Linked DNA regions of Homo sapiens. The protein of the gene in region 1 interacts with the protein of each later gene in a biochemical or structural test. Each region holds a gene or a part of one and is shown in the gene's direction. Other genes may lie near its edges.

What was found.
Region 2: the proteins of CBFB (region 1) and COPRS form a complex in vitro, tested with the Homo sapiens proteins (one study listed by BioGRID).

Annotation. Positions count from the first base shown.
Region 1 is NC_000016.10:67,032,052-67,039,343, forward strand, and holds part of CBFB (core-binding factor subunit beta), read left to right. Parts: intron 1-4,587; coding exon 4,588-4,704; intron 4,705-7,292. UniProt on the Homo sapiens protein: Forms the heterodimeric complex core-binding factor (CBF) with RUNX family proteins (RUNX1, RUNX2, and RUNX3).
Region 2 is NC_000017.11:31,851,371-31,856,536, reverse strand, and holds the end of COPRS (coordinator of PRMT5 and differentiation stimulator), read left to right. Parts: intron 1-3,506; coding exon 3,507-3,725; intron 3,726-4,228; coding exon 4,229-4,398; 3' UTR 4,399-4,666; downstream 4,667-5,166. UniProt on the Homo sapiens protein: Histone-binding protein required for histone H4 methyltransferase activity of PRMT5.

The DNA of each region.
Region 1 (7,292 bases):
TCATAGCTAGTAGGGTGTTTTCTGTCATCTCAGACTTTGCTGAATGGAATTATGAATTCAACCCATAGGATATCTGAAATGCTGTAATATTATAGTAGTAGTACAGGTGGTTAGTGTTTGTCATGAATTTATTTCCAGGATGAATTAGACATTCTAGACCTTCCCCGCTTCCAAATAATCTGATCCTCACCTGAGCCCGGGAGGTCGAGGCTGCAGTTAGCCATGATCGTACCACTGCACTCCAGCCTGGGTGACAGAGTGAGACCCGGTCTCCAAAAATAAAACAAGTATCTGATTCGACACATTTTACAAGTTTTAAATTTCTGAGAAGTATTAAAGGTTAAAGAAGGTAGATTGAATGCTGTGTGAGGTTTGCACTTAAGACGGCTCATGTCTTATTTTGTTAAATAATGTAACTATTGGTATTTGGAGAGGAATTTCACGTTTCCTAGTTTTCTCTCTTTCTAGTTTCCCTCCTTTAATTCAGTGTTAACCCACATTTAATTACAGGATCCTTAGCTCCTAGAGGGTAGAGACCTCATTAATTTTGTATAAACCCCTCTGGATACAGCTATTTTTCACAATACCTTTTATATCAGAGGTACTTGATTATTTGAATTTAGAGGCTGCTTAATTTAATGCCTGAAATTTATCTCATGACTTATGAACAGGCTGGGTTTCTTCCTATTTGGCTGTGGAAAAAGGCATTATTTTGCCTGTTTTGACAGCAGCCATAAATGGCAAGGATATCCATAGTTCTCAAAACTATTCCCAACCTTTCTCCTGCCCCAGTTGTCCTCTTCTTATTTGGAACATCTTCTTGATGTATCAGTGAGGTTAATGAAGAATTCATTTTGCTGTTGCCCAGGCTGGAGTGCAGTGGCATGATCTTGGCTCAGTGCAACCTCCGTCCCCCATGTTCAAGTGATTGTCTTGACCCAGCCTCCTGAGTAGCTGGAATTACAGGCGTATACCACCATGCCCAGCTAATTTTTGTATTTTTAGTAGAGACGGAGTTTCACCATGTTTGCCAGGCTGGTCTCAAACTCCTGACCTCAGGTGATCCACCGACCTCGGCCTCCCAAAGTGCTGGGATTACAGGCGTGAGCCACCACTCCCAGCCTCATTTTGCATTTAGATGTGAAATAATTTAAGGGCTGTGTTGATCATCTCTCTTTAACTATAAAACTCAATCAGCCTCCTTATTTTATGCCAATTGAGTTTTTAACTGTAAAACCCAATCAGCATTAAATAAAAGTGAACACAGGTCGAAGAATCTGTAGTAGAATCTGATTTATTCTTTTTTGAGACTGGATCTTACTCTGTCACTCTGGCTGGAGTGCAGTGGTGCCATCTCCGTTCACTGCAACCTCCACCTCCTGCTTCAGCCTCCTGACTTGCTGGGATTACAGGCGCCTGCCACCACGCCTGGCTGGTTTTTGTATTTTTAGTAGAGATGGGTTTCACCATGTTGGCCAGGCTGGTCTCCAACTGCTGGCCTCAAGTGATGTGCCTGCCTCAGTGAGCCACTGCACCCAGCCTTGATTTATTCTTATCAATTCTTTTTTTTTTTTTTTTGAGACGGAGTCTTGCTCTGTCGCCCAGGCTGGAGTGCAGTGGCACGATCTCGGCTCACTGCAAGCTCCGCCTCCTGGGTTCACGCCATTCTCCCGCTTCAGCCTCCCGAGTAACTGGGACTACAGTCGCCTGCCACCACACCCGGCTAATTTGTTTTTGTATTTTTAGTAGAGACAGAGTTTCACCGTTGTTTTTTTTTTTTTTTTTTTTGAGACGGCGTCTTGCACTGTCGGCTAGGCTGGAGTGCAATGGCACGATCTTGGCTCTCGGCTCACTGCAACCTCTGCCTCCTGGGTTCACACGATTCTCCTGCCTCAGCCTCCCGAGTAGCTAGGATTACAGGCGCACACCACCACACCCGGCTAATTTTTTGTATTTTTAGTAGAGGTGGGGTTTCACTATATTGGCCAGACTGGTGTTAAACTTCTGACTTCGTGATCTGCCTGTGTTGGCCTCCCAAAGTGCTGGGATTACAGGCTTGAGCCACTGCACCCGGCCTATTCTTACCAATTCTTATGTAGTTAAGAATGTTGGAGACGTCTTCAACACTAATAATCAAATAAAGAAAAAATATTTATAAGAAGTATGGTTACTCTGTGGTGAGAAGAGTAAAAACTAATACATATTTCTAATTCTAAAGATTGAATGGTAAAAAGTATGTTGGATTGGCACAAGGTGTGCTATTTTATAATTTGTGAAACCTACAAAGCATAAGACAACCTGGAAATCTTAAATATAGGCGTCATACTAGTGTAGCATTTTAATGTTTTCATTTTGTTTATTTTCGTCTTTATTTTCCTATGACGATGTTGACACCATATTAATATTTTGGAACAGACTTTTTCCAACTCTTACCTATATGTAGGTATTTCATTAAAAGAATTCCATGGTCACATAAGTTTGGAAAATGTTATTCTAGAATGATCTGTGTTTACCACTTCTGTCTCAGAGAGGGATCTTTATGAGATAATGGACATATAGTGATGAAGCAGGAAATCTCTTCTGAGGTTGGCATCAAGACAGGAGATGAGGTAATACGATCTGCAGAGTGTCTTAGCACAGAACTGATTTGGGGTACACTGGAGGTGGAAGGATTTGCTACTACGTGAATACTGAAGAAACAAGCCACAGGGATTTTGACACGGGGCAGTCGTTCATGGGCTGTGTCTTTTCTGCCACCACTCTGCTCTGAGAATTTCATTATCTGAAGCTGAAAAAGTTGGCTTTCTTGTTGAGCTTAAAGTTATTTATCATATTATTCAGCAGACACTTTCATAGCATTTACTTGGTACTGTTTTAAGCACTTTACAAATAATTGATTTGTGAGAAAACTGAATTATGCTTCAGGTCGTACAGCCTGGGCAGTTTCCCTCCCAGAAACTTTTTTTTTTTTTAACTAGTGTTGGGGGGTTTTTTGTTAAGATTTATGCTCGTAGTACATGGGAAGTTTTTTTTGTTTTTTGTTTTTGTGATGGAGTCTCGCCTTGTTGTCCAGGCTGGAGCACAGTGGTGCAATCTCGGCTGACTGCATGCAACCTCTGCCTCCCAGGTTCAAGTGATTCTCCTGCCTCATCCTCCCAAGTAGCTGGGATTACAGGCGTCTGCCACCATGCCCAGCTAATTTTTTGTATTTTTAGTAGAGACAGGGTTTCACCATGTTGGCCAGGCTGGTCTTGTACTCCTGACCTCAGATGGTCTACCTGCCTTGCCTCCCAAAGGGCTGGGATTACGAGTGTGAACCACTGCTCCTGGCCTGAAAGATTTTTTAAAATGATGTTGTAATATTGATGTTAGTTCAGTTTCTATGGATATAAAACATTTACCACATGAAAATGGTACCCCAGTTGATTAGGGAAATGCCATCAGAGAGGTTTAGAGATTTAGCATTTAGGTTGACAAGTGTACCGACAGTGCCAGTAATAGAAATAGGAAGTATAATTTTTACCTCTAAAGAATCTAAGCTGTTAACCATCAGGGGAACTATTGGATAGCTAACTTGGTTGATGGCTTTAAACAAATTGCCCCAAATGTGAACCTCTTGATTTGAGATGAAGACTCTATGCATGGAAACCAATTATGCTTCAGAACTTAATTAGTAGAATAAACCAAACAAAAAACTTTTTCTGGTTTCAGCAAAGAAGAGTTTACATTTAGATGATGAAAAATGTATTTTTTCAAAAATGCTTTTACTTCTTTTTTTCTTAATTTCCTTTGGGAAAGGGGTAATGTCTTTGTTTTTTGCCTGAGGGAAATATAGAGGTAACTTGCTCAAGGCCTACATAAAATGACACTTTATTGAAGTGGTTTTAGATTGTTGCATCTGTTGAGCTCTAACATCCAAATCTTTTATATTTATAAATCTAATCTATAAATATTTATTAGATGAATACTTTTCTCTTTGTTGTAGTCAGACCAAGTTCTCCTAAAGTCAAATGTGAGAAAAGACATATTTTTAAAAATCATCTAGGGTTTTAGAGAGTACTGTCACATCCCATGCCAATGTATGGTTTATCAGAGGAGAGACAATTCCAAGTGCATTTTTTATGTACTGCCTGCTATGCAGTGTTTCAGCAAGGGAAATCAAGGAAAATTAAAGTGTCTCATTTATACAATTTTAAATTGTGGTATTCTTTAAAATTCAAAATCTTTAGATTTTGAGTGATTTTTACATTTAAAAATAGAAGTTTTTAAATGCAGAGATGGATAGTGGCTTCTGGTTAGACATTAGCAGTGTGAGATCCTAACGTCAGCAAAAAATGACCTGAAAGAAAGTATTGATTCCATGTCTGATTTTATACTTAAGCAGCCAATGGCAAATGTCCTCAAAATGGAATCAGATGTTTGTAACTTAATACTTAAGAAAAATGATGAGTGCATGTTTTTTTTTACTTTTAAGTATTCTCTGTGCTGCCTGGCTTAAGACATAAACTGATGTAAAAATAAATGACTGCTTGCATAATTTATGTAATGTCCTGCTCCTGATCCTGTTTGTATTGATTTTTCTAAAAGGCTTTTGTGGCCACAGGAACCAATCTGTCTCTCCAGTTTTTTCCGGCCAGCTGGCAGGGAGAACAGCGACAAACACCTAGCCGAGAGTATGTCGACTTAGAAAGAGAAGCAGGCAAGGTAGGAAACATTTCTTTGCAATTTAAAATACTGTGGGTTGTTTTGTTAGAGATTATCTGGTAATTTACATTTTAATAAAGATCACAGATCTGATTATACCAGCATATGCTCAGATTTGTTTTCATTCCATGTTATAAGGATGTAATATAATTTTTTTTTTTTAATGGCGTTTCGCTCTTGTTGCCCAGGCTGGAGTGCAGTGGCGTGATGTTGGTTCACTGCAATCTCCGCCTTCCAGTTTCAAGCGATTCTCCTGCCTCAGCCTCCTGAGTAGCTGGGATTACAGGTACCCGCCACCACATCTGACTAATTTTTGTATTTTTAGTGGAGATGGGGTTTCACCATGTTGGCCAGGCTGGTCTCGAACTCCTGACCTTGTGATCCGCCCACCTCTGCCTCCCAAAGTGTTGGGATTACAGGCGTGAGCCACTGTGCCCGGCCAATATAATTTTTTAAAACCACTGTTAAACTTTTGTATCACTCCATTCCTAATTTCATGTACATAATATTTGTCATAGAACATTCTAACCCTTAAGGAAAGTAACATAACAATTTCTTTAAAAGTTTGAGGAGATATATTTTGTTTACAAAAATATATGTAAGTATAGTGCTATAAAAATAAAACAAGAGGAAAACGGAAAAAAGCTCTCTAGGTTTAAAAATTAATAGTATTTAGAAATAGCTCATAGGTAACTTTCTAATTCCATTAACAGCAAATTTACATTTGAGAAAAACAATGTGAAAACTTTAACTTGGAAATACTTTTTTTTTGTTTTGAGAAAAAGTTTCTGGGAACATGTCTTACAGTTTCGATGTTAGAAGTTTAGGTTAAAGATACAAAAATATAGGTAAAATGTTTAAGCTGAGAGCCTTATTTCAGGTCTACGTTAAATGTATTATGATTTTGGTAATTTTTTTTTTTTTTTTTTTGAGATGGAGTCTCCCTCTGTTGCCCAGGCTGGAGTGCAGTGGTGTGATCTTGGCTCACAGCAACCTCCACCTCCTGGGTTTTAAGCTATTCTCCTGCCTCAGCCTCCTGAGTAGCTGGGATTACAGGTGTGCGCCACCACGCCTGGCTAATTTTTTTGTATTTTTAGTAGAGACAGGGTTTCCCCATATTGGTCAGGCTGGTCTTGAACTCCTGACCATGTGATCCACCTGCCTCTGCCTCCCAAAGTGGTGGGATTATAGGAGTGAGCTACTGCACCTGGCCTGGTAAATTTTAATGAATAGCATCTTGGATTGGTTGATTCTTGATTGAGAAGTCAAGGAGTTGACTTCTAGAATAAAATTTTTAAAGAAGAAACCCTCTTTTAAATATAGTTTTATACTCAAAACACCCTTTTGGATCCAGTTTCATACTTTTTTTGTGTGTGTTTGTTTTGCAGTGTGTTTTTGTACCCGTTTCTATCAACTTACTAAATTAATTTTCTAAGTGTCATCATGAATAGCATAACCTGCCACATTTATGTAAAATGTGAGAAATGTCTAAATATTCCTTTGAGAAATATTTAATTTAATCTTGTGTGTATATATATATATACACGTATATATGTGTATATATACGTATATGTGTGTGTATATATGTATATATGTGTGTGTATATACGTATATGTGTGTATGTATATACATATATATGTATATATAAAATGAATTTTTTGTTTTCTCCAATTCTGTAGAATTAGATTTGATCTTTTGTGCGTGACAAAACAATCTTTGGATTAGAAAAGGGAAAACAGATTATAAGATTTAAAAAAATGAGTACTAAGCAAGCAGTTTGCTTTCCTGTGTATTAGCTTGTTTGCTTGGAAAATTAAAAGTGAATGTTCCAGATTTTACTATTTGGTAATTCTTACACAATATATAAGGAAGAATTTGAGAAGTCCTTGTACGATTATTGGTTTTTTTGTGCTTCTGGTGCGTGTATGTGTGACTAAATGAAGAAATTATTTTTTTTCTTGTTTGAATACTTCCTTAAAGTTTGTTTAACATGGTAGCTCAGATACTAAAGACGTAAACCAAAAAAAAAAAAAATTTGTTTTTTGTCAGCTTTAGCCCAAAACTATTTTAAGACTTCAAGGGCAACATCTCAGTGTTACTGAAGTCTTCCGGTATTTAATAACTAGTAAATGGGTTGTTAACTCTACCAGAAATTAAGTTTGCTTGAATTAATTTAATGATACTGCTTCACTAGTGTGAAGACCACATAATCCTTGGACTTAAACCATTGAGATGTTTTTAGTTATATGACCAAAAATAACAAAAATGTGAGATGGTTTATTCTAGTACAGTCATGTGTCACTTAATGGTAGGGATATGTTCTGGGAAATGTGTTGCTGGGTGATTTTTATCATTGTGTATATATAGAGTGTACTTACACAGATCTAGATGGTATAGCCTACTACACACTTAGGCTATCTGGTATAGTCTGTTGCTCCTAGGCTACAAACCTGTACTGTACAGCATGTTACCGTACTGAATACTGTAGTCAACTGTAACACAATTTGGTAAGTATTTGTGTATCTTGATGTATCTAAACATAGAAAAGATATGGTAAAAATACAGTATTTAAAAAATGGTATACCTGT
Region 2 (5,166 bases), on another chromosome or scaffold:
TTCCTAGGGGATACATTCTAAGACCCCCCCGCCCCAATGGATGCCTGAAACTGCTTTTTTTTCCTCCTATATATACTATTTCTGATATGGTTTAACTTATAAATTATGCATATGTGATTAATAACAATAGTAATATAGAACAATTATGCCAGTATACTGAAAGTTACGTGAATGTGTTCTCTCTCAAAATATCTTTTTTTTTTGAAACGGAGTCTCGCTGTGTCACCAGGCTGGAGTACAGTGGCACGATGTCAGCTCACCGCAACCTCCGCTTCCCAGGTTAAAGCAATTCTCCTGCCTCAGCCTCCCGAGTAGCTGGAACTACAGGCACGCGCCACCACACCCAGCTAACTTTTGTATTTTTAGTAGCTATGGGGTTTTACTATGTTGGCCAGGCTGGTCTCGAACTCCTGATCTCAAGTGATCTGCCCACCTAGGCCTCCCAAAGTGCTGGGATTACTGTGAGCCCACGCTCCCAAAGTGCTGGGATTACAAAGGCATGAGCCACTGTGCCCAGCCCCCTGCCGTTTTTTTTTTTTTTTGAGAGGGAGTTTTGCTCTTGTTGCCCAGGCTGGAGTGCAATGGCACAATCTTGGCTCACTGCAACCTCTGCCTCCTGGATTCAAGCATTCTCCTACCTCAGCCTCCCAAGTAGCTGGATTACAGGCATATGCCACCATGCCCAGCTAATTTTTGTATTTTTAGTAGAGATGGGGTTTCACCATGTTAGCCAGGCTGGTCTCGAACTCCTGACCTCACCTGATCCATCTGCCTCAGCCTCTCAGAGTGCTGGGATTACAGGTGTGAGCTACCACGCTTGGCCCCTTTTTTTCTTTTTCTTTTTTTTTTTTGAGATGGAGTCTCACTCTGTCACCCAGGCTGGAGTGCAGTGTCGCAATCTTGGCTCACTGCAACCTCTGTCTCCCGGGTTCAAGTGATTCTCGTGCCTCAGCCTCCTGAGTAGCTGGGATTACAGGCGTGCACCATATCGCCTGGCTAATTTTTGTATTTATTTATTTATTTATTTATTTATTTTTTGAGACGGAGTCTCGCTCTGTCTCCCAGGCAGTGGCACTATCTCGGCTCACTGCAAACTCTGCCCCCTGGGTTCACACCATTCTCCTGCCTCAGCCTCCCGAGTAGCTGGGACCACAGGCACCCGCCACCACGCCTGGCTAATTTTTTGTGTTTTTAGTAGAGATAGGATTTTACCTTGTTAGGATGGTCTCGATCTCCTGACCTCGTGATCTGCCCTCCTTGGCCACCCAAAGTGCTGGGATTACAGGCGTGAGCCACTGCTCCCGGCCTAATTTTTGTATTTTTAGTGGAGAGGGGCTTTCACCATGTTGGCCAGGCTGGTCTCAAACTCCTGACCTCAGGTGATCCGCCCACCTCGGCCTCCCAAAGTGCTGGGATTACAGGCATGAGCCACCGTGCCTGGCCTTTTTTTTTCTTTTAACTCTCACAACAACCCTATCTTCATTTTACAGATGTGGAAGTTGAGGCACAGAACAGTTAAATAAAAACAATTTAAAAATTGTGGTAAAAGATGCATAACCTAAATTTACCATGTAACCATTTTAACGCATATAATTCAGTAGCCTTTTAGCACAATGGCAGTGTTGTGCAACCATCACCACTACCTAGTTCCAGAATCTTTTCATCACCCTAAAAGGAAACCCTGTGCTCACCAAGTAGTCATTCTCCATTCCTTCCTTCTCTGAGCTCTTGGCAACCACTAATTTGCTTTCTGTCTCTGTGGGTTTATCTGTTCTGGATAGGCAAATGTGAGTTGCCTGTAAAGGGAATCATAACAATATGTGGCCTTTTGTGTCTGGCTTCTTCCACTTAGCGTATTTTCAAGGTGCATCCATGCCGTAGCATGTATCAGCACTGCATTCCTTTTTATGGCTGAATAATTCCATCATATGCATATACCACATTTTGTTTTTCCATTCATCCATTGATGGACATTTGATGTTGTGTCTACCTTTTGGTGATTGTAAATAGTGCTGCTGTGAGTATCCTTGTTTTATTTGAACAGCTGTTTTCAGTTCTTTTGGGTATATGTTTAGGACTGGGATTGCTGGGTCATATGGTAATTCTATATTTATGTTATGGAACTAGTTAAGTAAATTTCAGCTCAATCACACTTTTTTTTTTTTTTTTTTTTTTTTTTTTGGAGACAGGGTCTCACTCTGTGCAATGGCACGATCTTGGCTCACTGCAGCCTCCACCTCCCAGGTTCAAGCGATCCTCCCACCTCAGCCTCTTGAGTAGCTGGGATTACAGGTGCATGCCACTGCACCCAGCTAAATTTTTTGAATTTTTTGTAGAGACAGGGTTTGCGACATTGTTCAGGCTGGCCTTGAACTCCTGAGCTCAAGCAGTCCACCCACCTTGGCCTCCCAAAGTGCTAGGTTTACAAGGGTGAGCTACCGTGCCCGGCCCAGTCCGATGTTTGGTAATTGACAAAACACGGATTTGAAATCAGACAGTCTGGCTTTAGACCCCTTGCTCTGAACTATCACTTTATTGCTTATCACTGTTACTGTTGTTCCAGTATTAAGAGCATGGCTGTTTTAGGCTGATTGCCTTCTCTCCTGGGACCTGGCATCACCAAAGCACTATGTGCTCGGAAATCCATTATCTTTCCCCAGTCTTTCCTCCGTTATTGTGAGGCCTTTTGAAAATGTACCTTCCGGCCTCCCTGATGTCAGAGGGAGGCACTAGGTGCTGCCCATTGTGATTAGATGGGTTCTGGTCTTCTGCCTGCAGTGCCCCTGCTCCCCTTTGTCCCTGTGCTCACCTCTAACATGCTCTTTGAGGCTGAAGGGAGGAATAAAAGAGCAAAAACAACCGGGCACAGTGGCTTACGCCTGTAATCCCAGCACTTTGGGAGGCCGAGGCGGGTGGATCACAAGGTCAGGGGTTCAAGACCAGCCTGGCCAAGATGGTGAAACCCCGTCTCTACTAAAAATACAAAAAAATTAGCTGGGCGTGGTGGCGGGCGCTTGTAATCCCAGCTGCTCAGGAGGCTGAGGCAGAGAATTGCTTGAACCTGGGAGGTAGAGGTTGCAGTGAGCCGAGATGGTGCCATTGCATTCCAGCCTGGGCGACAGAGCGAGACTCTGTCTCAAAAAAAAAAAAAAAAGAGCAAAAACTTAATTCAGGCTTGTATTGTGAAAGTGTATTATTTATCAGAGGCCCTTTGCCTCAGTGACATACAAACCACCTGAAAATGTTAACTGTCCCTAGCCCTCTTTGTAAATTAAAGGACCTGACAATTAATGCCTTGTATAAGACAAAACGTCTTATTGAAAATAAATTATCAGCTCTTTTAAAAACATACAAAGAAGTGCATTTTTAAAAAAGTGCTCGGTGGCTAAAGAAGACTCTGTGCACTTGTTTTACTACCTTCGTAGTAAGTCTGCCCAAAATTTACTGAGCACAGAGCAGGTCCTCTTTGGTTTGTCACTAAGGCCATCTTCTCTTTGTCAATTTAGCCCGTGGAACACAGAGCATTCCTAATGACAGTCCTGCCCGGGGTGAGGGCACCCATTCTGAAGAGGAAGGCTTTGCCATGGATGAGGAGGACTCTGATGGAGAACTGAATACCTGGGAGCTGTCAGAAGGGACAAACTGTCCACCCAAGGAACAGCCTGGCGATCTTTTTAATGAGGACTGGGACTCGGAGTTGAAAGCAGATCAAGGGAATCCATATGGTAGGTGTGGAGTCTCTGGGGGTCCTGAACTAGGCCTTCTCAGACACACCTGTCAGACCAGCCCTGAAGGCAGTTTGGAACAGGGGTCCACATCTATGAGCTTAGGCTGGTATCTGTTACAGGTCTCCAATTTCTGTGACACCTTCTCTTTTATATTGAAAAAATCCAAATTTTGCATTTGACTCCATAATGTATCACTGTTTTAAAGTCAAAACTGTTACTCTCTCCAAAAATCTCTGCTATGAATTGAGCAGCTGCAGATAGAAGTGCTGTGTTATCCAGTTTGCTTCTTCACTGCTAAGAACCCTTGTCTGAGAAGCATAGCTTCTCAGCTGTTCCGAATGAACGCATTTACAATTCTTCAGGAAAGGAGAACTGTGTGTGTTTTTAAACAAAATAAGTGCAAGGATCTGTCCCCTAGACATACCTTTTTGGCTGTCCGTTTTTACCTTCCTTCCTTCCCTCCTTCCTTCCCTTAATCTGTCTTTTAAAACTGCCTGCAGATGCTGACGACATCCAGGAGAGCATTTCTCAAGAGCTTAAACCTTGGGTGTGCTGTGCCCCACAAGGAGACATGATCTATGACCCCAGCTGGCACCATCCGCCTCCACTGATACCCTATTATTCCAAGATGGTCTTTGAAACAGGACAGTTTGACGATGCTGAAGATTGAGTGTGGAGCTTTCTGCCTTGTAGGTGGGCGGGCCTCCACGTCAAGATCTCTTTTCCTGTCTTGGAGGTGAAAAGTCATATCTGAGAAAATGTTTGCAGTGACCCCTAGTCTGGGGTACACAGACCAGTGTTCCTTATTGACAGTGTTCAATAAGGCCCCGTCATTCTCGCCAGTCTGTTGTTGTTCTTAATGGGCTCCTCCTTGAAATGTGTGTGTGTTTGTGTCAAGAGGAGTTGTGTTCTTTGTAAATAAAGGTTAAAAAGAGAAACCAGTATGCTTCGTCTGCTTTTTTCCCATTTATTTATTTATGGAGACAGTCTCACTGTGTCACGCAGGCTGGAGTGCAGCAGCGCGAACTTGGCTCGTTGGAACCTCCACCTCCTGGGTTTAAGCGATTTTTGTGCCTCAGCCTCCTGAGTAGCTGGGACTATAGGTGCTCGCCACCACACCCGGCTAATTTTTTGTATTTTTAGTAGAGATGGGGTTTCACCACGTTGGCCAGGCTGTTCTCAAATTCCTGGCCTCAAGTAATCCACCCGCCTTGGCCTCCCAAAGTGCTGGGATTACAGGTGTGAGCCACCGTGCCCAGCCTTCACTACTTCATTTAAAGTCCCTGAATGACATTTTAAAGATTCAAACGCTTGGAGGCTTAAAACTACTCTGTGAAAGAAAAAAAATTTTAGTTTTGCTTCTGTAGATCTAGCACTGTTGACCAAGGATTGGAATCCAGGAGACACTGGTGATTTTGTAGCTGATTGTTTTCCTGTT